Homo sapiens: one gene and its partners. The protein of the gene in region 1 purifies or fractionates together with the protein of each later gene. This does not show direct contact. Each region holds a gene or a part of one and is shown on either strand. Other genes may lie near its edges. The genes, in order: PRELP, AMD1, COL14A1 and TRIM68.

The links.
Region 2: the proteins of PRELP (region 1) and AMD1 purify together in Homo sapiens (affinity purification with mass spectrometry; 3 studies listed by BioGRID and IntAct, with this or other methods). This does not show direct contact.
Region 3: the proteins of PRELP (region 1) and COL14A1 purify together in Homo sapiens (affinity purification with mass spectrometry; 3 studies listed by BioGRID and IntAct, with this or other methods). This does not show direct contact.
Region 4: the proteins of PRELP (region 1) and TRIM68 purify together in Homo sapiens (affinity purification with mass spectrometry; 4 studies listed by BioGRID and IntAct, with this or other methods). This does not show direct contact.

What each region holds. Positions count from the first base shown.
Region 1 is NC_000001.11:203,470,833-203,478,812, reverse strand, and holds the start of PRELP (prolargin precursor), read right to left. Parts: upstream 3,008-7,980; 5' UTR 2,875-3,007; intron 1-2,874. UniProt on the Homo sapiens protein: May anchor basement membranes to the underlying connective tissue.
Region 2 is NC_000006.12:110,877,779-110,884,802, forward strand, and holds part of AMD1 (S-adenosylmethionine decarboxylase proenzyme), read left to right. Parts: intron 1-7,024.
Region 3 is NC_000008.11:120,128,091-120,135,114, reverse strand, and holds part of COL14A1 (collagen alpha-1(XIV) chain isoform 1 precursor), read right to left. Parts: intron 1-7,024. UniProt on the Homo sapiens protein: Plays an adhesive role by integrating collagen bundles. It is probably associated with the surface of interstitial collagen fibrils via COL1.
Region 4 is NC_000011.10:4,598,224-4,605,247, forward strand, and holds the end of TRIM68 (E3 ubiquitin-protein ligase TRIM68), read right to left. Parts: coding exon 6,856-7,024; intron 5,118-6,855; coding exon 5,022-5,117; intron 4,190-5,021; coding exon 3,929-4,189; intron 3,464-3,928; coding exon 3,441-3,463; intron 2,905-3,440; coding exon 2,804-2,904; intron 2,604-2,803; coding exon 2,053-2,603; 3' UTR 449-2,052; downstream 1-448. UniProt on the Homo sapiens protein: Functions as a ubiquitin E3 ligase. Acts as a coactivator of androgen receptor (AR) depending on its ubiquitin ligase activity.

The DNA of each region.
Region 1 (7,980 bases):
CTTATGGGGGCATGATGACTTCAAGATGCCCCTTTCTAGGAAGGTGAAACGATACAAGGATGAGCTTGCCTGGGGCAGTGGGAGGAGAGCCTGTGGTGCATACTAGTTAGGAGAGAAGATTCTCACCCCTCCACCACTACCTAGTGATGCGAACCCTGTTCTGGGCCTCAGTTTTCTTATCTGTAAAATGGGAATAAAAAAATCTTCCCTATACCTATATTCCTTACCCAATTGTCAGAAGCAAGTGCAGTTAGCAGCTTTAAAATGCACTACAGATCAAAAAGTGCTAAAAATAAAAATAACACTATTATGGAGAGACCATCTGTCTCCCCAGTGTCTACCACAAGGCAAAGTGTAAACAGAATGAAGATTTTCTGGCCTCAGGCCACTAGTTTAGAAGAGAAAGTTTTCCATTCTGAGCGGTGGGGAAGAAACCAGGGTGAGACGACTCTTCTCTGACAGCCCGCCACCTACCATATCCTCTGCCCCATTCCCCCAGCATCTCCAAGCCTTGAAGAAAGCCTAGAAGAGTGTGTCTGATGCCTTGAGTGATTATAGATCTGAGACCCAATCCTGCAGTTCTTCATTCAGATGCTTAGCTAGGTAGGCTTAGGCAAAGCAATTGCTTTTCTGCTCTATAAAATGGGGATACTAACACCTTCTTTTCTGTTTTGAGGGTTAAATGAGTTAATACATGCAAAGTGAGTGTTTTCTGAATGTTAAGGTCTTGTTGATATTATTTCAAAGTAATGGGGTCTCCTTCCCTCCAGCCTGGCTAGAGGGCAGCCCCCATGCACTGCTCGAAGGCAGGGATCCTTGTGAGTGGGGTACCAGCTCTTCCACACAGAGCAACTTCCTCCCCTTTGTGGCTTGTGAGATCACACTTGGGTCTCAGAAACAACTAACTGAGGAGACTCTGGAAGTCCCCAGCCACCTAGGGAAAGCTTGTTCTGTCTTTCTAATTCACCAACTTCTCACCGATGCTTTCTGCAACAGGTGAGGGGACACTGGCCACAGAAGGTGCAAGTCTGCCTTCCTCAGTGGGCCATGGAGTTCCACTGCGATTCTTGACTTCTCCCAGCTTTTTGCCCCTTCCAGCCTTGAAATGCTTCACTCACATGCCCAATAAATGGGATTGCCCACTAGGGAGGTGGAGGGGGCATGAAGAAAGTGTTCAGCTCACCCTCTGTGAGAGCCCAGACAGGTGGCTGCTGGGAAGGAGGAGCAGGGACCTATAAGGGTCAGGGGAAGGGCCCAGCACATGCTCCTGGGGTCCTGGGGCAGGCAGATTAACAGGTGAGGGGAAACAGAAGCTCTGTGGAGCCATCTTGGGGGAACTTTCTTACTGGAATGTTCCTCTGTGGTATATATGGCTGCTTGTGCTTGCAAGGAGGAGAGAGGGAGACAGCTCTTCCCTGTTTACTCCCACTCCCCAAAAAAGAGGTGGCCTATTTGGGACACTCTGGTGCTCCTTTTCCAGGACACAGTCCTTCTGCCCAGCTAACACTGCCGGAGTCTTGGGCTTAAAAATTACAGCAAAGCTCTCTCTCAGGCCCCTGATTCTCGAGCCCTGGTGGACCATCAGAATCTCCTGAAGTATTAAAACAAGATTCCTGGGTCTCGATTCAGTAGATCTGCAGTGAGAGCCGACATCTGTATTTTTAGTAAGCCCTCCACACTCCTCCCTCTCCAGCCCTTAGGTGACTGTGAAGATCAGCTGTGTGTGGGACCCCTGATCTCCCTACACCCCGCCTGCCTTGGGACAGACCCTCTCTATTAATAGAGAGGAATGAGCAGGGGAGCAGGAGAGGGGCCGCCCTTCAGTTTTCCCCTCCCCAACTGCTTAAGGAACTGCTGCCTTTTTTTTTTTTTCTCCTCTGCCACAGGACCTTTTGCCAACCTAAATGGTTGGAATAATTTCAGAACGGCTTTAAAGAAAAATATTTTTCTGGCTGCCTGCAGGAAAAAAAAATAAAAAAATGAACTGTCCCCAGAGCTGGGAATTAGGACCTTCAAGGATTGGGAACTGGGTCGCTTTCTTCTTTCTTTCCAAAAGCCAAGTGGTTTGGACCAGTGAGACAGAAATTGAAAGCTGCTGAGAAGACACTGTGCAGGTTGGAAAAAGCCGTTTTTCTCTCCCTCCTACCCAGTGAAGCCCTAAATAATGAAGAAACCCTTCCAGCTCCCGCTCTTGCTTATCTCCTCCCTATTCGGCCTGGACTTGGGATGCAAGATTTTCTTCTGGCTCTGCCATCTCAGTGGGAAAACGTACTTTATCTTTGCTCTTACAGCTAGGGAGGTGTGTGTGAGAGGGCGAGAGACAAGATGCAGGGAACATGTGTGCATGCATGTGTGTGTGTGTCTGCTGGTGTCTGGTGATGATGTGGTCTAGCTCTGCATGTCAGATGCAGAGGGCAGAGGTGAATGGACAGGATGTCTTCATTTTGTATGGTCGTGTGGGGTGATGGTAGTGAACGTGCAGCCTCCGTGTGATGTGTGTGACTTCCACAATGTGTGACAATACACAAAAGGTGCAAAGAAATGGGTTCTGGAGTCCAGTTTCTATGGAAACACCTGATCTGTAGAAACACTTTGTGCAGCGTGGCTCTCTGTGCTACAACAAACATCTGCAGCAGGAAAGCTTAACTTTTGCAGTAAGCAAATATAGGGGTACAGAGTGATGAAAAGAAAAGGAAGAGGCTATAGGAAAGAAGTTAGGAAGACTAAATTTGAACTCATTTGAGAGGAGAAAGAGGTGGGAGGAAGGAAGGAGTGAGAGGATAGAGACTAGATCAATAAATGGACAGAGCTGGAGGAAACTTACTGGATGAAAGATTCTTCCCAGTCTCCTGCCCATCTCCCAACTGGGCTTACCTGCACACACCTGCCTCTCCTCTCAGCTCTGAGTTTAGTCCTCCTCTTCCACCCCCTCCCTTCGGCGGAGCTGTGGCAGCAGAGAGCCAGCTAGAAGATCTGATCTCCCAGTGGTGTGTGCGTGCTTGTGTTTGCCTGACTTTTCTTCCACCAGATCCTATTGGGGTGGGGAGGTTAGCTTGGGGGGAGGGAGGGGCAGATCATAGGGAGGGAGGGGAGGAGAGGAGGGAGGAGGGAGGGAGGGGAGGGGAGGAGAGAGGGAGGGAGCTTGGGAAAGGAGGAATGACAATAAAGTCTTTATTTGGCAGCCAAAACTCCCAAAGACTTCATCCACACACCATTCCCACTAACAGACTCATTTTTAATAACATTTCCTTCTGCTGCTGCCGCTTCTGGAGAGGGGTTGTTTGACCCATGTTTGGAAAACAAGCCAAATTAACAGAGTGAAAAGGCATGAAAAGCAACCTCTGTGTAAGCCAGGACTGGATGGCTGGGTCCAGCACTAGCCTGTTTAATTCCTCCTAACAATCGCCTTGCCTTCTGGGGCCGTTGCTCGGTAGTGTTAAATTCCTAAACCAGTGAGGGGTTTGGGATGCTTCCTCTGAGCAGTGACAGTCTTTCCCTAAGTTATCTTCTCCAGGAGGTTGCAAAGGGAGTGGAGTCTCAGGCTGGCATAGGAGATAACTTCGGTTTGGCTGCCAGGGCTGTTCTGAGAACCAGAGAGGGAGAAGTCTGGCCTGAGTTGCACAGCAAAGTTAAGGCAGAATTAAGATTTAATGTAAGACCTAAAGTCACTGTTCCTAGCTCATGTGGACAATGTAGTGGCTTCTTTCAGCTTCTCCATATCACACTTAGGTGAGATTTAGGGGCTGTGTGGTCATCACACAAAGTGATGGGAAATCCAAATTTCCCCTGTGCACATCAACACCCCAGAAGACCCAGTCAAGTAACACCACTACCTCTAACAATCCTCTAACAATGCCCCTCAATTAAGAAAGCACAACACACTTGCAGGTAAGTAGATGCCCATCAAAATTTCCTGCCATGGCCAGGCACAGTGGCTCACGCCTGTAATCCCAGTACTGTGGGAGGCAGAGGCAGGCGGATCACCTGAGGTCAGGAGTTTGAGGCCAACCTGGCCAACATGGTGAAACCCTGTCTGTACTAAAAATACAAAAAAATTAGCTGGGTGTGGTGGCGGGCATCTGTAGTCCCAGCTACTAGGGAGGCTGAGGCAGGAGAATTGCTTGAACCTGGGAGGCAAAGCTTGCAGTGAGCCAAGATCGTGCCACTGCACTCCAGCCTGGGCAACAAGAGCGTGACTCTGTCTCAAAAAATAAATAAGTAAATAAAATAAATAAATTCCTGCCATCCCAGCTGACTACTTAGAAAATGCAACGCAATTTTCTTCTCCATTATTGGTTCCATGGAGAGCTGCAGAGCCCCATGACAGGGGACTGCCTGCCTGCCCTCCGCAATATGGGGTAGAGGAGAGAACATTAAAATTAGGGTCTGCAGCCCTGGGCTCAGCCACCCACAAGCTATGGTCTTAGGTGAATCACTTGATCATGAGGACCTTCAGTTTCCTCATTTACAAAATATGGATAATATTGACCTCACAGGGTTGGGAAGATTAAATATTGTAAATGTGAGAGCACTTTATAAACTGGGAAGATATTAGGGTTTAGGAAAGGGATTGCGATGAATGGTAATTAGCCTAAGAAAAGGAGAAGGAAAAATAAAACCCAGACCTTTCTCCAACCCCCTTCCACCCCAGATCTCATGGCTTCACGCCCTGCTGGTGAGGTCTTGCTGGAAGACAGCACGGTTCCTCTCCAGGTTCACATTAACTGTGGCTCTGCCAGGCTGCTCATGTGCTTCATTTCTCATCCAGATGGGATATGGCGTCTTCTGCAGGCCGGGAACATCAGACGCCAGATTTGCTTGTTTCCCTTGGTATGGTGGGTGGTAGATGATAGAGGGCAAAAAAGACTGGCTGGGCACGGAGACTCATGTCTGTAATCCCAGCACTATGGGAGACGAAGGCAGAAGATTAATGGAGCCCAGGAGTTCGAGACCAGCCTGGGCCATATGGGGGGACCCTGTTTGTACAAATAATTTAAAAATTAGCTGGGTGTGGTGGTGTGTACCTGAAGTCCCAGCTACTTAGGAGACTGAGGTGAGAGGATTATTTGAGGCCAGGAGACCAAGGCTGTAATGAGCTATGATTACGCCAGTGCCCTCCAGCCTGGGTCACAGAGCAAGACCCTGTCTCAAAAAATAATAAGGTGAGCAAAGTACAGTGAGGTACAGGGATGATGGGTAGAGTGTCTGTGGGGATAGACAGACTGGAAGGAGTGTGGAGTATGGGCAGGGGCAGGGGTGTCACCTGTATCCATTTGTATGACAGCCATCCAAATCCCAAGAGTCTATGCTCTCGGGAATGGATGGCCAACTTCCAAGCCCTGCCTAAGCCAGTTATCTCCCTTCCTCCCTCTCCTATCTCCCGCATCCCACGCTATGCAGAGAGAATTGGAAAGAAGTATAGACATGGCCAGCAGGATATTCAGGAGTGTCCAGAATAGAGTTTGCTAATCAGTGGCTTGTGGACCTAATATGGCTTGAGTACCTAATTTTTTTTGACAGCACGTTAATTTTTTAAAAGTTTTGTGGAAATTTTAAAACGTATACATATTTACACAGTATAGTATTAATATCCCCATTATCTAATACCTAGCTTCAACAATTACCGACTCATGGCCAATCTTGTTTCTTCTGTGTTCCCCACTCCCACAAACCCTACTGGTATATTTTGAAGCATTGGTTAAAAAAAAAAAAAAGGATTTGAACACCTTTAGTCAGGACAAGCACTTCCCAGTTCAACACAGTCGCCATCCTGGTAGACAGGGGTCCAGGTTCTTGGGACCTGGCTTTGCCCCATTGCATGCTGTGTGACCTTGAAGATGTCTCTCTCCCTCTCTGACCTCAGTTTGCCATTTATAAAACACGAGGTTGTACCAAATGACCTCTCAGTGCTCTTCCAACAATACTGTGAAGAGAGAGTATAAGGTTTGGGGTTAGGAAACCTGGATTAAGATGTCAACTCTGCTGTTCTCTAGCTACCTGGTGAGTAGGTCTCAGCACACGAGCCTTGGTTTTCTCATCTGCCCCATCTCCCTCCCAGGGTATACCCAAGATAACACAAGGATCATTGGCAGCAATGGCAGGGGAGTATTTTGTGATTCACTGGCTTCATGCACCCTGGGACTATGTGGATCCTCCAGGAAGAGCCTCCTCTACTCTCCTAGAGTCTCAGGGACACCAGTGGTGTGTCTTCAACCCAGGGGAGGTATTTATCTCTTGCTGGTGTAGCCAGAGAACAGTCACAGGCACATGATGTGAATGCTGGGGCATATGGTGAGAAGTCCAGATATGCACATTGTTGCTGCTACTGCTGCCTGGTCCTAGGAGAGGGCTAGGGGCAGCATGGTTAGGAGACAGAATGCAGGGAGGGCCAGGCAGCAGAGGGAGGGGGCTCTCCAAGTTGGTGGGTTTCAGCTGCATTTGCAGAGTTGGGACCTGCCCACACTTCCCATCCAGACCGAAATCCATCTGGGGGGCTTACCATTTCTTTGACCCTCACAGTAATTGCTGCCTTGGTTACAAGCAGTGAGTGCTTAAAGCAAGAGAAGAAAGGACACAATTGTGTAATACTCTTTCCATAGAAGTACAGGAGGGAGGTACTCAAGCTTCCCACCTCCCCCGTGGTGGTCCTGAGACTTTGCCGGGAAGGAGCAGTGTGGGCCCGAAGAGTTTGGCTCAAACTGCTCAGTGGTCATCAGGACCCACAGAGGCTGGCCCTGGACGGACCCTCACCCTGTACTAGTTGAGGCTCCCAGTCCAGGGTGGGTGGGGTCTGGGCAAATGCATAACGGGGGAGAAGCTGTGTGAGTCCTGTGGCAGCCTGTCCCACCCTCCAGCCTGGGGGGCCTGGGTTGCCTGGGGTGAGTGGGCCCCTGCTGGGCAGAGACAGCATCCTGTTCATCATGGTATAACCCACAGCACCCACCAACGGCTTGGCACACCCTGGGTGCTCAGTAGGGGTCTGTTTCATTGAATTTAAGAGGGTTGAACAAGGAGATTCTCTGTCACCCTCTTTTTTTAAAAAAAGGTTATTATTTTTTGAATAGGTAATACATTCTCTTGATTGAAAATCTAAGAGGTATAAGAGCTTGCATAGGGAAAAAGTCTTTTCCCTTGCCTATCCCCTCATCACTCACTTTCCCCCAGAGGACCGTGCGCCAGTTTCTTGTGTCCTCACAGATTTATTTAAGGTACACACTAGTAACAAATAAGCAGCTATGCACTTTTATTTTCACTTAGTGGTACAGGTATCTTTTGAAGATGATCATATTGGTCCTTTTGGTGATTCTTTCTCTGCCCCCACCCCCCAATATTTATTTAGTTGACAGTCTCTCTTGGTGAACATTTGGGCTCCTCTTTTTTTTTTTTTTTTTTTTTTTTGTGACAGAGTCTCCCTCTTGTCGCCAGGCTGGTGTGCAATGGTGCAATCTCGGCTCACTGCAATCTCTGTCTCCAGGGTTCAAGTGATTCTCCTGTCTCAGCCTCCCGAGTAGCTGGGATTACAGGTGCCCGCCACCAAACCCGGCTAATTTTTGTATTTTTAGTAGAGAAGGGGCTTCACCATGTTGACCAGGCTGGTCTTGGCCTCGAACTCCTGACCTCAGGTAATCTTCCTCCCTTGGCCTCCCAAAGTGCTGGGATTACAGGAGTGAGCCACCTCACCGGCCTGGGCTCCTCATTTTTTTTTTTTTTTTTTTTTTTTTGAGATGGAGTCTCACTCTGTCGCCCAGGCTAGAGTGCAGTGGCACAATCTTGGCTCACTTCGAGCTCCGCCTCCTGGATTCACGCCATTCTCCGGCTTAGCCTCCCAAGTAGCTGGGACTACAGGCGCCCGCCACCACGCCTGGCTAATTTTTTGTATTTTTTAGTAGAGACGGGGTTTCACCATGTTAGCCAGGATGGAGACCTCCTCATTTTTAAGGTAGGCAGTGCTGGAGTTGGAGTCTCACAAACTTGGTTGCA
Region 2 (7,024 bases), on another chromosome or scaffold:
GCTCACTGCAGCCTTGACCTCCTGGGCTCTATTAAGATGTGAATAAACTAAAAGTAGGTTAAAAGATGAACAGATGGAATTAAACAAATCTGTTTATAAAGCATAATAAACATAGGGACATAAAAACGATTAAGAGAATGAAAGGCTTAAATGTCCAAAGAGAGCATTAGTATTGATGCTAAAGACAAGGATAACAAGATAAGGATATGAGGGAGAAAAAAATCCTGGAAAAATAGCTTTCCAAAACTAATGCAAGAAGAAATGGAGAACCCAAAACAGTCCTAGAACACCTAAATAACTTGAATCAGTCAATCATCTAGGCCCAGATGATTTCACTGGAGTGTTCTGTATAATTCAAGGGAGAAAATATCCAACTTTTTTCACGCATTCTTCTGGGAAACAACATACTTCCCTCGGTTTTCTCATCCCAAAGTCTGAAATATTTTTTTCTCCTACACGATATTTACCTTTCATATTTAGATCTGCAATCCATCTGGAATTGATTTTGTGTGTGGTGTGAGGGAATACACTTTAAACAAACTTGGCTCATCAGTCCAAGCTTTAATGCTTGGAATCTTTTCTGAATGTACACCTTTTTACTAAACACTGCTTCCCTCTTGTAGACCATTTAAGATATTTTATCTTAAGTGAACAAATTATGTAATACTGAGAAATTTAACAAAGAAAAATCTTTTATGATATAGCTTGGGTTAAACAATACTGTTGGAGAAAAGCAGCAGTCCAGGTATATCCAGATGAATAAAGGACAATTAAGGGAGAGGCGGTTTCTTAGGGGTAACCTGCAGTTTTCTCTGATTTTTCAGATTTTACGGATGTTGAATAAAAATCAGTGACCATTTAAAAAATGGTTTAGTTGTTGGATCAAAGTGCTGTAACAAACAAAAGCTTTTTATAAGACATGGCAGCTTTAGGGAGGGTGAGAGTAGTAAGAAGGAAATCTGTTAGAAAATAGAAAATTTTGCTGAGAAAAGAATGATTTTTCAGGACTGGAAATCCTATTACTGTGCTTTACTCAGATTTTATAAACTAAAACATAATTTTTAGTAAAGGATTGGGGCAGTTGTAAAGATAGTCATACCTCAGCTTAACTTTCCCCAAACTCATGACTTATTTGACTACATCATTATGCAGCATTATTGCAATATCAATAATTTACATTGAAGGAATTTACAACCCGTTGCCAAAAAACCTTTTAGTGTAATGTTTCAGAGTAGAAATGCTTCCTGCTAAAGAATAAAGCTTCTCGTTACATTCCTCCCAGCAGTTTCAAAAAGGTTTCATGGCTGGGCTTGGTGGCTCATGTCTAATCCCAGCACTCTGAGAGACCAAGGAGTTTGAGAGCCCAGTCTGGGCAACATAGTGAAATCCTGACTCTACAAAAAAAATTGAAAAATTATCTGTGCGTGCTGGTCCATCCTGGTGCGTGTCTGCATCCCAGCCACTCGGGAAGCTGAGGTGGGAGGATTTTTTTGAGCCATTGGGGGATCGAGGCTGCAGCGAAATGAGATTGCACCAGTGCGCTCCATCTGGTGGCAGAGTGAAACCCTCTCAACAACAACGAAAATATTTCAACTGTTGTTTACAAACCATGTATCTTTAAGAAGCACATGTTGAAAGTAGCAGAAAACTGAGAGGAGTATCCCGATTTGGGGTAAAAATTTGAGATAGAGAAACAATAATGTGATGATAATAGGTTCATATCTTTGAACAAAAGGGAGGAGGCTTATTTCTCAGGTTATCTGAATTCACTGCCGCAGGAAGGCACCCTCAGAATCTAACTTCTGGTCAGTCTAGCTTTACTCAAGAATGATCTGGTTTTAGGATGCCTTTTACCTAAAGACTGCTTACTACCTGGGGTAGAGGCACCCTGATGAATGTACTGTAATGAGAGCCTCTAAAACAGACCTAAAAATATGAGGTAAGAGCAGAATTGAGAAGCTGCAGTGACTTTGGATAAATTACCTGAACTCTGAAACCAGCTGGTTTTACATTAGGAAGTAATGAGTAATCTAATGACCTGGAAGCTTTTCAAATAAAAATTTGCAGGCATCATCCTCAGAAAGTGTCTGACCTAACTGGGTATGGGAATAGCATCTATGTATTGAGTTTTCAGGTGATTAGAGCATAACCCTGCACTAATGGGATCCTTCTGTATTTAAGTTCTTGGTCTTTTTTTTTTTTGGACAGTCTCAGTCACCCAGGTTCGAGTGCAGTGGTGCCATCTCAGCTCACTGCAACCTCCGCCTCCCAGGTTCAAATGATTCTCCTGCCTCAGCCTCCCTAATAGTGGGTACTACAGGTATGCACCACGATGCCTGGCTAATTTTTGTATTTTTAGTAAAAGACAGGGTTTCGCCATGTTGGCTAGGCTGGTCTTGAACTCCTGACTTCAAGTGATTGAGCCATCGCCCCTGGTCCCTTTGTCCATTTTTTAATCACTTTTTGTTGAGTTGTGTGTAGGTGTGTCTTTTGCTTTGGATATTGACCCCTTATGAGGTGACTTGCAAGTATTTTATTCTGTAGGTTGTCTTTTCACTCGTTTCTTTTGATGTATAGAAATGTTTACATTTTAGGTTTTCAAGTTCCATTTGTCTGTTTTTGATTTTATTGTATGTCATATCCAAGAAATCATTGCCAAATGTAATGCCCTGAAGCATTTACCCTATGTATTCTTCTAGGAGTTTTATTCGCTGTTAATGTTTAGGTTGTTGATCCATTTTGAGTTAATTTTTGTTTATGATGTAAGGTAAAAGTCCAACTTAATTTTGTTTGCATGTGGACATCCATTTTTTCCCAGCACTATTTGTGGAAGCGATGTTTTTCCCTGTTATGTAGGCTTGGGACTCTTGTTCAAGATAGTTGAGCTCAGTCATTTACTTCTTTTTTTGAGACACGCTTGTCTTGCTCTGTCTCCCAGGCTGAAGTGCAGTGGTGTGATTTTTGGTGCACTGTAGCCTCCGCCTCCTGGGTTCAAGTGATTCTCCTGCCTCAGCCTCACGAGTAGCTGGGACTACAAGCCTGCGCCACCACACCTGGCTAATTTTGGTATTTTTACTAGAGGCGGGTTTCGCTATGTTGGTCAGGCTGGTCTTGAACTCCTGACCTCAAGTGATCCGCCTGCCTCGGGCTCCCAAAATGCATTTAATCAGGCGACATAGAGAAGTCTTGTTATAATATAATTATCTTGTCCCTGTAGACATTTCTAAATTCTATTTTTATTAGACCTCAGCCTCTAAGAAAATGTTTTAAATATAAAATGTGGCATGCCACTAAAGTGTTGTTTTTCAGACATACAATTTGTGTGCTGTTATTAATATAGAACATCTATTTTTCTTTGGGATCATTTATCATGATCTCTGATTATATTTAATATTTTAGTATCTAGTCTTTAAGTGAAATTAGGGTATCTCAACCTCAGCATTCTTGACATTTTGATTCAGATAATTCACTGTTGTCAATGACTATCCTGTTAATTATACCGTGTGTAGCAGTGTCCCTGGCCTCTATCCACTGCATGCTGGCAACACCACCACCACCCCAGTTGTGATAAAAAATGTCTCCAAATGTTGCCACATGTCTTCTGGGTGGCAAAATTACTACAAGTTGAGAACCACTGAGTTAGATCAGAGAGGTGGCATTTAAGATGAGAAAAAGGAATTCAAATCAGGAAATACTCAATCTACATATTTCTTTGTGTTTTATAACCACCTAAGAATTGTGTGCTTCGGGCCAGGCATGGTGGTGCATGCCTGTAATCCCAAATCCCAGCACTTTGGGAGGCCGAGGCGGGTGGATTGCTTGAGGTCAGGAGTTCGAGACCAGCCTGGCCAGCATGGTGAAACACCTTCTCTACTAAAAATACAAAAAAAAAATTAGCCTGACATGGTGGCAGATGCCTGTAATCAGTCCCAACTACTCGGGAGGCTGGGGCAGGAGACTTGCTTGAACCTGGGAGGCGGAGTTTGCAGTGAGCTGATAGCATACCACTGCACTCCAGCCTAGGTGACAGAACAAGACTGCATCTCAAAAAAAAAAAAAATTGTGTGCTTGAATAGCTTTATAATAATTTCTAATGACTAGATCAGTATTACGTGAGCTGTAATGTGAACAAATCCCAAAATCATCTTGCTATCTTGCTTCTCTTGATTCTGCTTTATATCCATCAATTTGATTTATTGACTCTTTAAATAGCAAGGATTGCCAAATAGATCAGTTTTATAAATAGTTTATAATAGACTAGTGCTTCAAAGTCTCAGTTTGTAGTGTACTTGGGAGTGAAGCAGAGACAAGACCACTATCACTACTGAGCCTGATAAAACATTCTAGCTTAATACTATCTTTTCTATTTTTGACACACAGTCTCACTCTGTCGCCCAGGCTGGTGTGCAGTGGCACGATCTTGGCTCACTGCAACCTAATTTTAAAAATGGCTCTGTCGACTGTATAAAGCACTTTGTCTTTTCCATCATTAATTTGATCAGAAAGCAGACCACTGAAAACCTTTCCTCCAAAACAAGAGTCAGCAAACTTTCTGTAAAGGACTAGGGAGTAAATTTTAAATTTTGCAAGGCAGACAGTCTGTTGCAATTACTCAGCTCTGCCCTTATAGGGAGAAAATAACCATAGTCAATGTATAAATGAATGGGTGTGGCTAGGTTCCAGTAGAGCTTTATTTACAAAAGCAGGCCATTTTTTCCCACAGAAATGTGATAGAAATAATTTGTGCTGAAATTTTCAGCTGTTGCAGAGTTTTTCACCTCTTTTATGTACATGTATAGCATTGTATTGACTACTTTTTTCTTTCGTCTATTTTGCCCTCTGATTTATTTTTCTTGAGCTTAGTAGCTCTGGTAAATGCCTTTATCATCACTAGGTTGATAGACAGTTTAACTGTTTGTCCTAGGTTGCTTAAAGTAATTGCTTTCTTTTGATACTATGATTGAAAAATTCTGATTACCGGAGCATTACTATTAGTTGAGGAAAGGTTTGAATGGAGAATTTTATTAACTGATGATGAGTGAGTATAAGAGCATTTTGAAGCCAATGGGTTGGCACGTGCCTATAATCCTAGCACTTTGGGAAGCTGAGATGGGAGGATCTCATTAGCCCAGGAGTTTGAGACCAACCTGGGCAACATAGGGAGACCTCATCTCTACAAAACAATTAAAAATATATTAGTAAGGTGTAGTGATACATGCCCTGTGGTCCCAGCTACTTGGGAGGCTGAGGTGGGAGGATCTCTTTGAGCATGGGAGGCCAAGGCTGCAGTGAGCTGTGATTGTGCCATTGTTCTCCAGCCTGGGTGACAGTGAGACTGGCTCAGAAAACAAAAGGTTATTTCTCTGCCATTACAGAAGAAGCATGCTACACTGTCTTCTCTTATTAAAATGCAATTAATAAACCCTGGACAGAATGCATTGTTGAGCAGCTATCCAAGGACTCTGAGAAGTAAATTTTAGCAGGTGAAATGGAGAAGAAAGCCAGAACTTTAAATTCCACTGAACCAGCAGTGAATTTCCTGTTTTTTTTCCCCTGTGGTATCTCCTCGCTGATTTCTCCTGGGCTTGCCAGAAACCCAGAACTGAAAAGTAGGGGCAGGCAAAAATAGTTCCAAGAAAGGCTCTCTAGTTCTCCTCTGCAAAGAAAGAATGAGAGGCCCCTTTGAATCAGAGTGGAAGAAATCTCTTTTTTGCTTTTGTTTTGTTCTATTCTGCCCCAATCCTCTTGTAGGCCTTTAGCAGCTGTGGCAGTTAGGCAGATGTCTAAAACAACGAGAGAAGGGAATCATTTTTTGTTTGTTGTTTGTTTTTGAGACAGAGTCTTGCTCTGTAGCCAGGGCTGGAGTGCAGTGACACGATCTCGGCTCACTGCAAGCTCCGCCTTCCGGGTTCATGCCATTCTCCCGCCGCAGCCACCCAAGTAGCTGGGACTACAGGTGCCCGCCACCATGCCCAGCTAATTTTTTTTTTTTTTATTTTTAGTAGAGACGGGGTTTCACCTTGTTAGCCAGGATGGTCTTGATCTCCTGACCTTGTGATCCTCCTGCCTCCCAGAGTGCTGGGATTACAGGCGTGAGCCACTGCGCCCGGCCAAAGCCCTATTTTTATAGGTAGTGGATGAAGAAGAGTCCTTCCCCTATCCCCTATGTGAGTCAGGCATTGTCAGAGAGATTATGGAAGGTTGAAGAAAGTAAACCTATAAAGTTTTATATGAACACTCCTTAGCCATTTTGCATGGATCTGACCCTAAACAGCACATCAGAGGCTTTGAAAACTAGAATACACAATAGACTGCCTCTCCAGGGCCAGCCTGGCCATTGGGTGGCAAATAAGTGGGGCAGATGCAAATAACATAGCAAAGGAGTTCATAACAAACCTGACACTGGAACCATAACACAACCTAGAAACATTGAGTAAAAACTTGAAGCCTAAACCAAACCAGATTGTCTGCTGAAAGTTTTTAAAAATCAAGACCTAGAATGATGTAACATGTCAAAATATCCAGGATGCCATCCTAAATTAGTCAACATACTCAAAACCAGGAAAATCTTAACATCTCAAAGGAAAAGACAGCAGACACCAACCTCAAGGTGACATGGACCAAGACTTTAAAGTATCTGTGCTACAAGTTGTAAGGGTGAATACTTTGTTTTAAGAGAGGGTCTTGCTCTGTTACCCTGGCTGGAGTGTAGCGGTGTGATCATGGTTCACTGCACCCTCCATCTCCTGGGCTCAAGCAAACTTCCCACATCAGCCTACCGAGTAGCTGGGACTACAGACCTGCACCACCACTCCCAGCTGCCTTTTTTCTTTTTAAGAGACTGGCTATTGCTATGTTGCCCAGGCTGGTCTTGAACTTCTGGTCTCGTGATCCTTCCTTCTTGGCCTCTGAACCACAGTGCCTGGCCACAACAGCCTTTAAAAAAAGAGAAAACAAAAATAAGAAAGGAAAAGACTGTTACACTGTTTAGTTCAGCCATGGAACGTGTTTAAAAGTCTTAATA
Region 3 (7,024 bases), on another chromosome or scaffold:
ATCACCATGGCTAAAAGTATGACTGCACATCTTTCATTTACTTAAGCTGTCTTTTGTTCGGTGAACTCTCTAGCATATCCTTGGTCATTTTTCTATAGGATTGTTCATCTGTTTTTTGTTTGTTTGTTTGTTTTTTGTGATGGAATCTCACTTACTCTGTCACCCAGGCTGGAGTGCAGTGGTGCAATCTTGGCTCGCTGCAATTTCCACCTCCCAGGTTCAAGCAATTCTCATGCCTCAGCCTCCCAAATAGCTGGGATTACAGGCATGCACCACCATACCCAACTGTTTTTTGTATTTTTAGTAGAGACAGGGTTTCGCCATGTTGGCCAGGCTGGTCTCGAACTCCTGACCTCAAGTGATCTGACTTCCTCGGCCTCCCAAAGTGCTGGGATTACAAGCGTGAGCCACCACACTCAGCTAGGAGTGTTCATCTTTTTATGAGAAATTTTTGTATTTAATATGTGGCTCTTTTTCCATCATATATGATAAAACACGTTGCCCAATATTTATTTTTTTTCTTTTTTATCTCCTATGGTTTATGACATGCATATAAGTCTCTTTCTCCTTTGGAATTATAGCATTTTCCTATATTTTCTTTTAGTATTCTTACATTTTCAATTTTTAAATTGAAATCTTTGATCATCTAAAACTTATTTTGATGTAAATGAAAAAGTTTTAACTTTTATTCTCCATGTCTATCCAATTAGTCCAATACCACTTATAGAATAATTTACCTTTTGATCACAGGTTAACAATGCTATATTTTATTTTCGAATCTATCGATTTTCTATTTATGTGTGACTATTAAGTAATTGTAAATATCAAAACTTTATAATATGTTTTAATATTTTCTTTTAAGTTTTCTTTCTGATTATTTTTGACTAGGTACCAAAAACTCCTCAAAATTGGGATCATGTTAAATTAGTAGACCAATTTAGGTAGATCGACCTTTTTTATACAATAGTCCATCTTTACATCAAAAAAGAATATATTCTTTGTTTATTCAAGCCAGTCATCTTCATTTCTTCATGAGCACTTTAAAGAGTTATATAAATTTGACATTTTGAGTTTATTTCTACATATTATATACATATATGTTTTATTTCCTGTTAATGGATTTTTCTTAATCACTTTTAAACAAGTTGTTTATTAATTATAGTAAAGCAATTTTATTTTTATATTAATTTTGTAACCTACCTTGAATAGTTTAACATTTTTTCAAAGTCTTAAAGTTTGTAAAATTGATTTCCTTAATTTTTTCTGTAGATGATATCTTTCTTCTTACCTTCCAAATTTTATGTTTTTCATTTCTTTCCCTTTTCTTATTACTTTGGCTACTATCTCCAGAATATTTATCCTGGAAACTTTGTCTTGTTCTTATTTTTAATAGCAATGCTTCTTTGGCATGACTTTGATTTTGAAGACACATGGCTAGACAGACTGTTAGAGAAGACAAACACAAATATACTGATATAAATGTATCATGTTTAGTAAATTTCCATCTGTGTAAACTTTATTGAGCTATTAATCTGAAATAAAATGTTAAATTATTGTAGTAGTTATGAAGAATATCCTCTAACTTTTTTCTCTTAACTTTTTAACATGACAATTATATTAATCCATTTTCTAATACTAAACTTACCTGTAAAATTTGAGCCCAACTTGATCATTGTGAATTATTCTTTTGGGTTCTATTTACTAATATGCTATTCATATCAATAAGTACATCAATATTAGTGAAATTAATCTGTAGCTTTTCTTTTTTATTATGCTGTGTCAAGTTTTGATATCAGTATTATTTTTTCCAGTTTTATAAAAAATAACAGAATTTTTTCTTCTTTCTCTATACTGTACTTTGGAACAGTTATTTTTTTTTTTTTTATTTTTTTTTTGTTTGAGACGGAGTTTCGCTCTGTCGCCCAGGCTGGAGTGCAGTGGCGCGATCTCAACTCACTGCAAGCTCCGCCTCCCGGGTTCACGCCATTCTCCTGCCTCAGCCTCCTGTGTAGCTGGGACTACAGGCACGCGCCACCATGCCTGGCTAATTTTTGTATTTTTAGTAGAGACGGGGTTTCACCGTGTTAGCCAGGATGGTCTCGATCTCCTGACCTCGTGATCCGCCCGTCTCGGCCTCCCAAAGTGCTGGGATTACAGGCGTGAGCCACCGCGCCCGGCCGGAACAGTTATAATAGCACGGTATTTTTATTTTTTTACATTTTCATTAGCATTCAATTGCAAAACCATGGGGAGAGTTCAGTACTCTTGGAGAGGTTACTTTTTAACAACTTTTTCAACATGTTTGTGTCTAATGTTTTATTCATAATTCCTGTATAATAAAAAATCAGTTTTAGTAATTTGTACTTTGTTTAAAAATAACTCATTTCATATCATTAAAATAAGAATACTGCCCAAAACACAGCCTGGGTGACAGAACAAGACTCTGTTTCAAAGAGAAAAAAAAGAACGTTACCCAAAACAATATCCAGGTTCAATGTTATTGCTATCAAACTACCTACATCATTTTTCACAGAAATAGAAAAAAAAAAAATTCTAAACAAAACCAAAAAAGAGCCTCAATAGCCAAAGCAATTCTAAGCAAAAAGAACAAAATTGAAGGCATCAAATTATCCAACTTCAAACTCTACTACAAGGCTACAGTAACCAAAAAAGCATGGTACTGGTACAAAAACAAACACACAGAAAACGGAACAGGTTAGAAAACACAGAAATAAAGTCACACACCTACAACCACCTGATCTTTAACAATGTCAACAAAAACAAGCAATGGGGAAAGGACTACCTCTTCAATAAATGGTGTTGGAATAGCTGGCTAGCTGTATGCAGAAGAATGAAATGGGACTCCTACCTTTCACCATATATGAAAATTAACTCAAAATAGATTAAAGGCTTAAATGTAAGATCTAACATTATAAAAAAATCCTAGAAGAAAACCTAGCAAATATCGGCTGGGCACAGTGGCTCATGCCTGTAATCCCAGCACTTTGGGAGGCCAAAGCGGGTGGATCATGAGGTCAGGAGATCAAGACCATCCTGGCTAACACAGTGAAACCTCATCTCTACTAAAAATATAAAAAATTATCTGGGCATGGTGGGGCATATGCCTGTAATCCCAACTACTAGAGAGGCTGGGGCAGGAGAATCGCCTGAACCCAGGAGGCAGAGGTTGCAGTGAGCCGAGATAGCGCCACTGCACTCCAGCCTTGGTGACAGAGCAAGACTCTGTCTCAAAAAAAAAAAAAAAAAAAAAAAAAAGAAAGGAAGAAAAAAGGAAGAAAACCTAGCAAATACCATTCCAGACACAGGCTTTGGCAGTGAATCTATGACTAAGTCCTCAAATCAACTGCAACAGAAACAAAAATTGACAAGTGGGATCTAATTAAACTAAAGAGCTTCTGAATAGCAAAAGAAACTATCAAGAGAGTAAATAGACAATCTACAGAATAGGAGAAAGTATTTGCAAAGTATGGACCCAACAAAGGTCTGATATCCAGAATCTATAATGAACTTAAATTATTCAACAAGCAAAAAACAAATAACCCTATTAAAAATGTAGGCAAAGGGCATGAGCGGATATTTCTCAAAAGAAGACATACAAGCAGCCAACAAACATGAAAAAATGCTCCACATTGCTAATCATCAGAAAGATGCAAATCAAAATCACATTGAGATACTATCTCACACCAATCAGAATGGCTATCATTAAAAAGTCAAAAAAAAAAAAACAGATTTGCAGAGAAAAGGAAATGCTTATACACTGTTGGTAGGAATGTAAATTGGTTCAGCCACTGTGGAAAGCAGTTTGGAGATTTCACAAAGAACTTAAAAAACTACCGTTCAACTCAGTAATCCCACTAATGGATATATACGCAAAGGAATATAAATAATTCTACCAAAAAGACACATGCACTCCTATGTTCATCACAGCACTCTTCACAATAACAAAGATGTGAAATCAACCTAGATGCTCATCAATGGTGGACTGGATAAAGAAAATGTGGTACATATACACCATGGAATACTACACAGCCATAACAAAGAACAAAATCATGTCCTTTGCGGCAACATGGATGCAGCTGGAGGCCATTATCCTAAGTGAATTAACAGAGGAACAGAAAACCAAGTACCACATATTCTCACTTATAAGTAGGAGCTAAACAGTACACATGGACATAAAGATGAGAAAACAGACAGTGGGGACTAATAGCGAGGGAAGGAAAAAAAAGGGGGTGAGGGTTGAAGAACTACCTTTTGGGTACTATGCTCACTACCTGGGTGATGGGATCATTCATACCCTAAACTTCAGCATGACACATATACCTATGTCATAAACCTGTTCTTGTATCCCCAAACTTAAAATAAAAGTTGGAAAAAAAAGAATCCATTTCATCCAGGCTTTCTAATTTATTGGCATATTTTTATTTTAATTACCATTAAATTCTTTTAATTTTCTCCAAGTTAGTGATGTTTCCATTTTACATTTCTTTCCTTGTACACGTAGGCTTTCTTTATTTTGCTTTTTAAAAGACAAAAAGCTGAATAAAATGCACAGTGATTTTTGTTTAAGAGAGAAATATCAAATGGAAGGGGAAAGCAACAGTAAAGTAGGAATAAGGGAAGGAAGAAGAAAAGGGAAAATGATGAAGAGGAAGAAGATGAGGAGGCAGAGGAAACAAAGAAAAAATAAGGGGAAAAGAGAGAAAAGAAAACAGTATAAAGGCAGAAAGGATACAAGATGACCTATCTGGCCAAATGTGGGCCAATGTTGCCTAGATTGGTGCTACTCAAAGTAGCTGGTCTATGAACTGTTACTGGTCCTCAGTGAGATAAGGAGCTTATGCCAATATGCAAGTCTATGTATTCTTTTGCTTCCTTCGTCAGAAAAGCTTTGCTATGAAAAAATAATGATAATCTCCGTTGAACTAACAGTGTGCTTGGTGAACAGTGCGCTTATTGACATATTTGATTTACATCATCGTGTAGTTTTTGTCTTATCAGAGGCAGGTAACAGTTTGTGGATGGGCACCAACCAGCAGTAGCACCAAACTTGATCCTTCACCAACCAGGCCTCTGATGAACTGCATCTGTCCCTCATCTTATTGAGGTTCTCCAGCTAGTTTCATGGCCTCAGTCACTGTTTTAACCTTCTAGATCTTGGGCACTATCAGACATCTAGATGGGCAGTTTAACCCATATTCAAGAAAGTTCAACACACATAGGCAATCAGTAAATATTGATTGATTTAATAGTTAATGACTGAATGATCAGGGCTAATGTGTGTACAGCTCGCAGTTAATGAACTAAACAATTTACACTTCGCCTAGGGTCAATGACACTTGAAATTGGCAGACACTCTGCTCCCAAGTTGTGTGCCCCAGTGCAAAGCTGTGTTATCCAGATAAAACAGAACTGTTTTCTTCTCCCATGCCATAGGTTTGCACAGAGAGGCTTCCTTTTTCTAATTTACAGAAAAACTATATTAGGTTAGCAGCATCCCTGTGAATCACTCAAACGCAAGGAATTTGACTGAAAATTAGCCTCAGTTATACAGCTGCTCAATCAGTATTAAACTCATGCTGTATGTTCTAAATGACAGAAGGTAGAGCCATTCCAAAAGTATGGCAAATTGGAATGACAGCTGCTTGACACAAGAATGTTCTTCACCTGGCTTTTTTTCCCTCTCTTCATTTTTTTCAAACACTGACATAGTTCATCTGTCAAAGAAATGGGAGACTGTTTTTAACTACAATGTACATCTGTAATCAGTATAAAGGGTAGCTTTACATCTCAGTTTAGACATCCTTTCCTTCAGGAAGTTTTCCTTGATCTTCCAAGTCTGGGGTCAGGTGCTCTTCCTGTTTCCTATAGTAGTAATCTTTATTTTCCATTCTGCAGCATTGAACACTACCCCGTAGTTAGCTATTGGCATTTCCATTTGCCAAAGCATATTATTCCCTACTGTATTTTGAATGCTTAGCACAGTGCCAGCACATGGCAGGAGACAGGGCTGGGAAGTGAAGGAAGAACAGAAGCAAACAACCTGCAGCAAATTATCATTTTTAGACATCAATTAAATGTTCTCCTCTTTGCAAAAGCCAGAGACAAAAGGCCACCCAGAAATAGATCTTTATCCAATAATGGGCCCTCTGACTGCTCCTAGATAAAGACACACCCTAAGACATTGCAATGGACTTAGCAAAGCACAACCTACCTCTGGACCAATTTTTGTAAGCAACTCAGATAATTTCTAGGAGAAATGAGGCAAAACATTGCTCTCTAAAATTCACAGAGACACCTTTCAGGGTAGCTCCGACAAAGGCCCATAGAGAGAAAAGTGCAACAAGACCACTAATAAAAAAATTACCTGGAGGAAACGGGGAGTCTAGGCTCTAAACTTTGACTTAAAGAACGCTCAGAATTTCCTATAGACTCTCTTTTATATTCTCAATGCCCGCCTCAGCCTCCCAAGTATCTAGGATTACAGGTGCCCACCACCACGCCCAGCTAATCTTTATATTTTTAGTAGAGATGGGGTTTTGCCATGTTGGCCATGCTGGCCTTGAACTCTTGACCTCAGGTGATCCTCCCAAAATGCTGGGATTACAGGCATGAGCCACTGTGCCTGGCCCCATATAGACTTTTCTTAATCATATTTCTGTCACTTGCTGTCTTTGTGATCCCATACAAGGTGCTTTTTATCCTTGAAGCTCAGTGATTGCTAAAGGAGGAATATTATTTTCTTCCCCAAGTAACTGGGAGACTTAAGTGTGTTTCTAAAAGAGAAAAAGGCAGATACCCAGTAAGTACTCAAAAAATATGCCAACATTTCCAACACACACACACACACACACACACACACACACACGCGCGCGCACACACACACACACACGTCACAGGAACAGGATGCAGTTTGGTCTACAACAAAAGCTTAGTGTATACAGAAAAGTAACTGGATCCCTGCCATTTTTTATTTACTCACAGAAGAAGTCAAGGAGAATGATTA
Region 4 (7,024 bases), on another chromosome or scaffold:
GATTGTTTAACCTTACGAGTCTTCTAACAAGTAATCAGAGTACCCAAACAGGCTTATAAATGTAAAAAACAATCAAACCAACCAAAAAGAGTACATTACAAATGAGGCCATTTCATTCCTTCCTTCATTCTAAGTTCGAATGAATTTATCAGCTAACAATCCTCCGTTTCTAGGAACCTTCCAAGATTTGTCTTAATAGCCAAAGAACAACATTGATTTTCCCTTAACCCTTTTGTCCCAATTGTCCACAGACAGAACTGAAGTCCTTCCTAGGGACCTACTTCTCAGTTACCCCCAGGGAATCCCCTGACAAAGATGCTCCTCTAATTGAGGCAGGCTCAACCCTTGGCCAGCACCAGGGTCTGTGCCTCACTAGCTCATTCCCCTCCAGGCAGCTGATGGAAACTTCTCCCCTTCTACTACTGATTCTCAAGAAGCAGTCTGGAAGCATGGTGGACAGAATGCGTTTATTTCTCCAGTTTGGCCTATTTTAACTCCTACATACATGAACAGCCAATACAATTAAAGTAGAAACACAATTTTTAATATTCCTTATCACAGCCATTTGAAGCTCCTTTCTGCCCAAAAGGTCTAGACTGCCAGCAGAGGCCCTGAGACAAAGGCACTGCTATAAGATGCAGACTGTATCATGGCACAGTGGGAAAGTCACCATGTGCAAAATCCACGGCTTGCCTGCCTCTATGCCTCAGACAGGAACAAATCATGGGATGGATCTGGGATCTATACAACAGCTCCATGAGGCAGGACAATCATATGAGGTTTTATGCTGAATTACACCCATTTTCCCAATGAGGACACATAAAACCTCCCAAACATGTGAGAAGTTTCAGACCCAAATATAATAAGTGATGTATAGGCATGTGACCTGCGAAGTGAGTTTGTCAACCTTGTTTCACTTGAGTGTGAAAAATGCTTTATAATTTTGATAATCTTACCTTCAGCAGCTTTGTAAGAAATAACTTGCTCCAGGGGCCGGGCGCAGTGGCTCATGCCTCTAATCCCAGCACTGTGGGAGGCTGAGGAGGGCGGATCATGAGGTCAGGAGATCGAGACCATCCTAGCTAACATGGTGAAACTCCGTCTCTACTAAAAATACAAAAAAATGAGCCAGGCGTCGTGGTGGGCGCCTGTAGTCCCAGCTACTCGGGAAGCTGAGGCAGGAGAATGGCGTGAACCCAGGAGGCAGAGCCTGCAGTGAGCCGAGATCGTGCCACTGCACTCCAGCCTGGGCAACAGAGTGAGACTCCGTGTCAAAAAAAAAGAAATAACTTGCTCCCTTAAGGCCATTTCAGTTTCCTCATTCATAAAGTGAAAATACAAACTAAAGCTCGCAGGTTTTCTGATCCTGCCACTTAGAGAAAAAAGGCAAGACTAGGACACTGGTCTCCTGGAGTCCAAGGGACAGTGATTTGCCCAGCTTGTGCTCAGAGAGGGAACGGCAGTGGGGTGGCTTGGGCAGGTCTGTGTCCCCCTGCTGCACTGAATTTCTCTTGCCAGGAGGTCAGAAGGTGAGAGTCACATAAAGGTTGCTTAGTTATAGCAAACCTCAGGGGAAGCATCCTCTGACTGGCCTCAGCACAACAACCAGCTCTGGGTATGCGCAGCATTTTTTTGGCCTATTGGGAAAGCCCATCTAATGGTGTCCTGAAGACTGTATCTACTTCATCATCCTCACTGACTGAACTGTGACACCGGACGGGAATCAGGGAAGAGGGTGGTTGGCTACTACATGGACAAAGTCCTGATCCTTACCCCAACGAGTCACCTTAGAACTGCTCTGATCCTCACCATCAGCCCTGTCGTGCTTCCCTCATGGGATGCAATGCTCATTTGACTGGGCCTCTGCTTTTTAAAATAAGTGGTTTCATGACAGACTTCAGCCTGGTAGCAAAGACCAAAGGATCAGACAGAGGAATCCTTGGATACTGGGCTCAGCTCAGTTTCAGGGGATACCTGTCAGTGGCTCGGTCCTCCAAGCCCCATGGGGGCCAGGCCCAATTCCAAGCCTCTCTGGTTAGGGTGGTAGCTTTCTTAGTCCTCCCCATCCAGGGAGCAGATGGCCAGAGGAGCAGTGTTGTTGGTTCCAATGCTGTAGCAAGGACTAAAATAGGGCAGGAGGCGCCCAGGGAAGGGATAGCGGGGGAAAGTGAAGATGTGGGAGCCACAGTCAGTCACATTGTAGAAAGAAATGTCATGGGCCTCATAATCCACGAAGATTCCCACCCGGCGAGGAGGGACCGGCAAGGACAGGATTGGGTACTCATCGGTGCCTGCTCGGTACTCATTTCCCTTCCTCAGCCTTATCACCCAGAATCCATAGTGGGGGGATAAGTAGACCACCTCCTTCCGGTCTACATTTTGCTTACATACTCCCAGGCCCCACTCAGACCTGTCTCCCACCTCCACCTCCCAGTAGTGCCGGCCTGAGGAGATGCACTGGCTTCCCAGGACGATATTATAGCGGTAAAATCTCTCAGGATTGTCTGGCAGTTTCTGGTTGGTGTCTCCATAGTGCACACGTTTTCTGTCCTCAGACACGATGAGACGGGAGTAAGCAGTATCTGGATCCAAGCGCACATCAGCTAGAAGAAAAGGTCCTGGTTGGTAACAGTGATATAGGGCCAGGGGACATGGGTGAGAGCCCTCTGATAAATTCAGCCACAGATTTCTCAATGATGAAGGGGTGAGGCTGGATGGAGCACCCAGAGGGCACTGAACCATTTTCTATCTCTGGGAGGGGTCCCTCCCACTGTCCACTACAGTCTCCCCCAGGATCCATTACCTGCATAAGTCTTCAGGATCTCTCTTAGCCCCAGCACACGGCAATCTGTCTTCAACTCCAGGGAGATTGGTTCTGGCTGCTGCAAGCTCCAAGATTTGCTCCTGGTAGAGGAGGGTGAACCTCAGGGCCAGGAGTCCCGGCTTTGTCACATGGGCCTTATCTTAGTACAGGGAAGAGGGGCTTGGCCAGGGACATAGTGAACCCCAGCAAAGCAGAGACATGATGGTTACGGTTATTTGGCTGAGCCTCAAGCTGTTTGTGTGCAGAGGTGAGAACACCTGCATGCCCATGCTATGGGAAGGGTTGGATGTATATTTGATTCTGGGAGAGGAAGAAGTGCACACATTTTCTGTCGGACATGAAGGAGTCATGGGCAGTCTTTTATCCTCTTTGAGCAATCTACTTGAAACCACATATTTTACAGCTTCACTTGATATACATTTGATCAAGTACAAAGAAGAAAAAGGAAAGATCAACAAAGATTCCTTAGCCATTACCATGTAAGTGGGACGAGACTGTGGACCAGCACCTGCTTTTCTGTGTGCACCGAGTCTGTGCTCCGTCCCTACTTCTGGCTCTAGTTAGGCCTCACTATCCCCTACAGGGCTGCTTAGAGGCTCCAAGGGTGAGAACATACCTGTTTAACACTTCCTGAATATCCTGGAAGGAGAAAAAAAAATGCAGCATCTGAGTAAGTGCTATTCCTCAGAGGGAACAGACATCGAACTGGCAGGGAGTTTCTCTAGGGGAAGGGAGACAGATACCAAGAATGGAGAGATGCCATGCAGAGGTAAGGAGAAGCCTATGGAAGGATGGAAGAGCAGGCTGAGCTTTGGCTGAACTGGCCAATTTCAGGCTCCATCTCAAGACTCTCGGGCTAGAGGAGAGGGCCTGGAATGACGCCAGAGCTGCCTGAGCACTGCCCCACCTATGATGCTACAACAGACCAGGTCATCCACCAGCCAGGGATAGGGAAACAGCAGGTATTAGCTGGGGAAACACAGGATCCATGACCAGCTGGCAGAGGGCTGGCAGTCCCTACTGAAGGGTAACTGATGCTCTCTCCTGGAGTCTCAGTCTATCTTCAGCTGTCACTCAGGGTTACCAGGAAAACCTACTACTCACCTGCAACATCCAGCGGACAGGCCTCTGCGACCTCTCTTTCAACTCTGCAATCATCCTCCACAGGACCTGGCTCTGCTGGATGAGCTCGCTATGGTTCAACTCCAGTTTCTGCATGGTCTCCGCTGCCTCCCGCTGTAGGCTGGCCAGAGCTGCTGCTACCTCTGCCCCCAGCTGCCGATGTGGTGGCTGCTTTTTCTCTAGTAATCGCTGGTATTTTTCAAACTCCCATACAATACTCTGTTTTCGGGTTTCCACCTGTATCTGTGGAGCCAAGATGGAAATCAGCACTGATACTTTCAGTCACCCAGTATCGAGCATACTGACATATGCATACACACATACTCTGCAATGGTACCAACCACGTGACAGGCTATGCAGGGGCAAAGATAAAGGATACTATTTTTCCTAGCTTCCTGTTCTCCCAGCTCCACCACATGCTTCTAGGTCTCTATTGTCACTCTTATTGACTCCAGTAGGGTCCAGGATATTATCTTAATACTACATGCTCTAGACTATTTTCCATTTTCAGAATAATGACAAGATGTGTTACATTTAAGTCTCTAAGGCAGTGTAACTTAACTACACTGTTAGGTGGTTCATTTTCATGTTGATATTATATCTGTTCAACATGCTGTTTTAGATTGGTTCAGTGTTACTTTCTGTTGATCAAAAGTTCTAGTAGTTTGATACTTACTGGCCTCAAATTTATTTCAGAGGTGATTTTACAATATTTTAATAACCAGACTCTTAGCAAATATTCTCTAACTTGGGAAAATGAAAGAGAAACTCTGCTTTACAAGCATGATATAAGCCATGCCACTGTGAGCTGACACACGTGAGCATGTGCTTTTCCTTTCTCATATAGGAGGATACAAGACCAGAGGTTATCCCTACATCCCCATGGAGAAACTGGAATTAAGAGGTGACGTGGCCTACCTAAGGCCTGGGACAGAGAAAGCAGGGATTAGAACCCTAGGCTCTGTGATTTCAAGCCTCACATTCTGCCTCACAGTGATGAGAATGCTACCCTAGGCCAGCTCCAGGACCACACAGGACGACTGACACAAACTCCTTTCCCCACGAGGCAACCTGCCTTCCAGGTGGCAGTTCGTTTCCTTTCACCAACTTCAAGCTTCCAGGCCTCTTCTTGCTCTTTCTTCAGATGTTCGAGGGCCTCATGAAGTTCCCACTGCAAGAGACAAAACCCTCATGAGGCCACCTCCGGCAGCCTAGGCTTCCTAGCACTGGGAGGCTATGGGAGAACCAGAGTCCTTCAGGCAACCGGCCACAGTGAAGGCTGTGGGGAAAGGGAATGCCACAGAGGAAGCAGACTCTGCCCAGATGACATCCGAGGTAGCTCTCTGGGCTGAGAATCATTTCAACTCCCACAGTCTCTAAATGTCTGTAAACTGGAAGAAAAGGTCCATTTACAACCTCTCCACAAAAGTACCTTGGACTTTCCTTTCCATGCCAATTTTTATCCTTATCTTATTTATTTTTATCTTACTGTCTGCCAGAACCTTGTTACTCCAAATGTGGTTCAAGTGGATCAGCAGCATCCACATCACCTAGGAGCTTGTTAGAAATGCAGAATCTTGGCCTTACTTTAGACCTACCAAATGAGAATCTCAATTTTAGATGGATCTCCCAGGTGGTTCATATGCTTATTAAGGGTAAGAAGCACTTTCCTAGAATAGTAATGCAAGGGATTTCTACTGAAAAGCATAAACTGTGCAGAAACACCATTTAATTCTGCTATTTTAACAAAATAGCAACTATTTTGTTAAAATATATCAAGTGTCAGGTATATTTTCAGCTCTAAATATGCATGTGATACTTACAATCCTCTGAGGCTGGTATTAACCTTATTTTATAGACAAGAAAACTGAGGCTTAGAGGGTGACCTACCCAAAGTCATTCAGGTAATAAATGGTTGGGCTGGGATTTCATCCAGCCCTTTACCCCTATGTTATACTAGCTCCCTTTTCTAATAGTCTCAAAAACAGAATGAGTTAGTAAATACTTTTCATATTTTAGAAATCCCTCCCATATAGGAAAAAAGCTAATTCAGGGGATTTGTCTTACACTCTCACCTTCCTATTTCAACTCCAAAAAAGAGAGTTGAGACCAATGCTGGATCACTGGATCACAGAATCACTGAGATAATGGTTCCGATAAAGATGTCATTATGGGCATCTGATGAAAGAGTAAAGAGAAGCCCAGAAGCTGGAAGTTGATGAGGTTAGCTACAAAAAAGGAGTCCCAGGTTTGTCAGAGATGACTTGTCAAACAAACAAACTTGGGAGAGGAGAAAGTGCAAGAAGACTTGAGTCACAGCCTCTGATCTTCCTTTCACTAACTGGACCTGAAGTCAGAAAGGACCTGAGAAGACTATATCAGATGACCTCTCTCAATCTTGTGACTCACCCATAGTTCTTTCCACCTCTAAAATAAATTGCCATGTTTTCAACTTTCTAAGCCTCACTTTTGTCTATAAAATGAAGGAGGGAAGTGATCCATTCAATGCCAAATGACTACTTGCAGCACTGCTAGGAGGAGTTTGCAGGTCAGGTGTAGCCTTGACCATCTATATAAGAGCCTCATGCCTAAACTCATCCAAGGCATCCAGAATCTCAGTTAAAACCCAAACTGTTTTCCTTCACATTCTCATTACTGAAATCAGCCTTGGGTTAGGAATTGAGCCCTGTTAGGATGTAGGTGTAGAGGAAGTGGGAGAGCAGGAAATCAAGGAAGGTCATGAATACAAGGAAAGGTATAGCTCTCTGTATCAGATTCCAGGGATCTCTGGGTGTCAGGAACCAAAGGAGTTAGCTCTCAGTCTGTGGTGCTGGTGGTCAAGCCCTTGATCTAGAAACAGCCAACTTGGGGCCGGGGTTAGACTGGAGTGGCCAGCTTCCATCTCTCACCTTGTACTCCCAGGCAACATCCTCCATTGGCACAACACTGTGGGCCTCATGCTCTGGGGACTGGCTGCAGGCCTCACACATTATCAAGACATCCTCTTTGCAGAACATCTTCAGCTTTTCCCCATGGCGCTCACACAGGTCACCCTTCAGCCCCATTCCTGGATGTAGC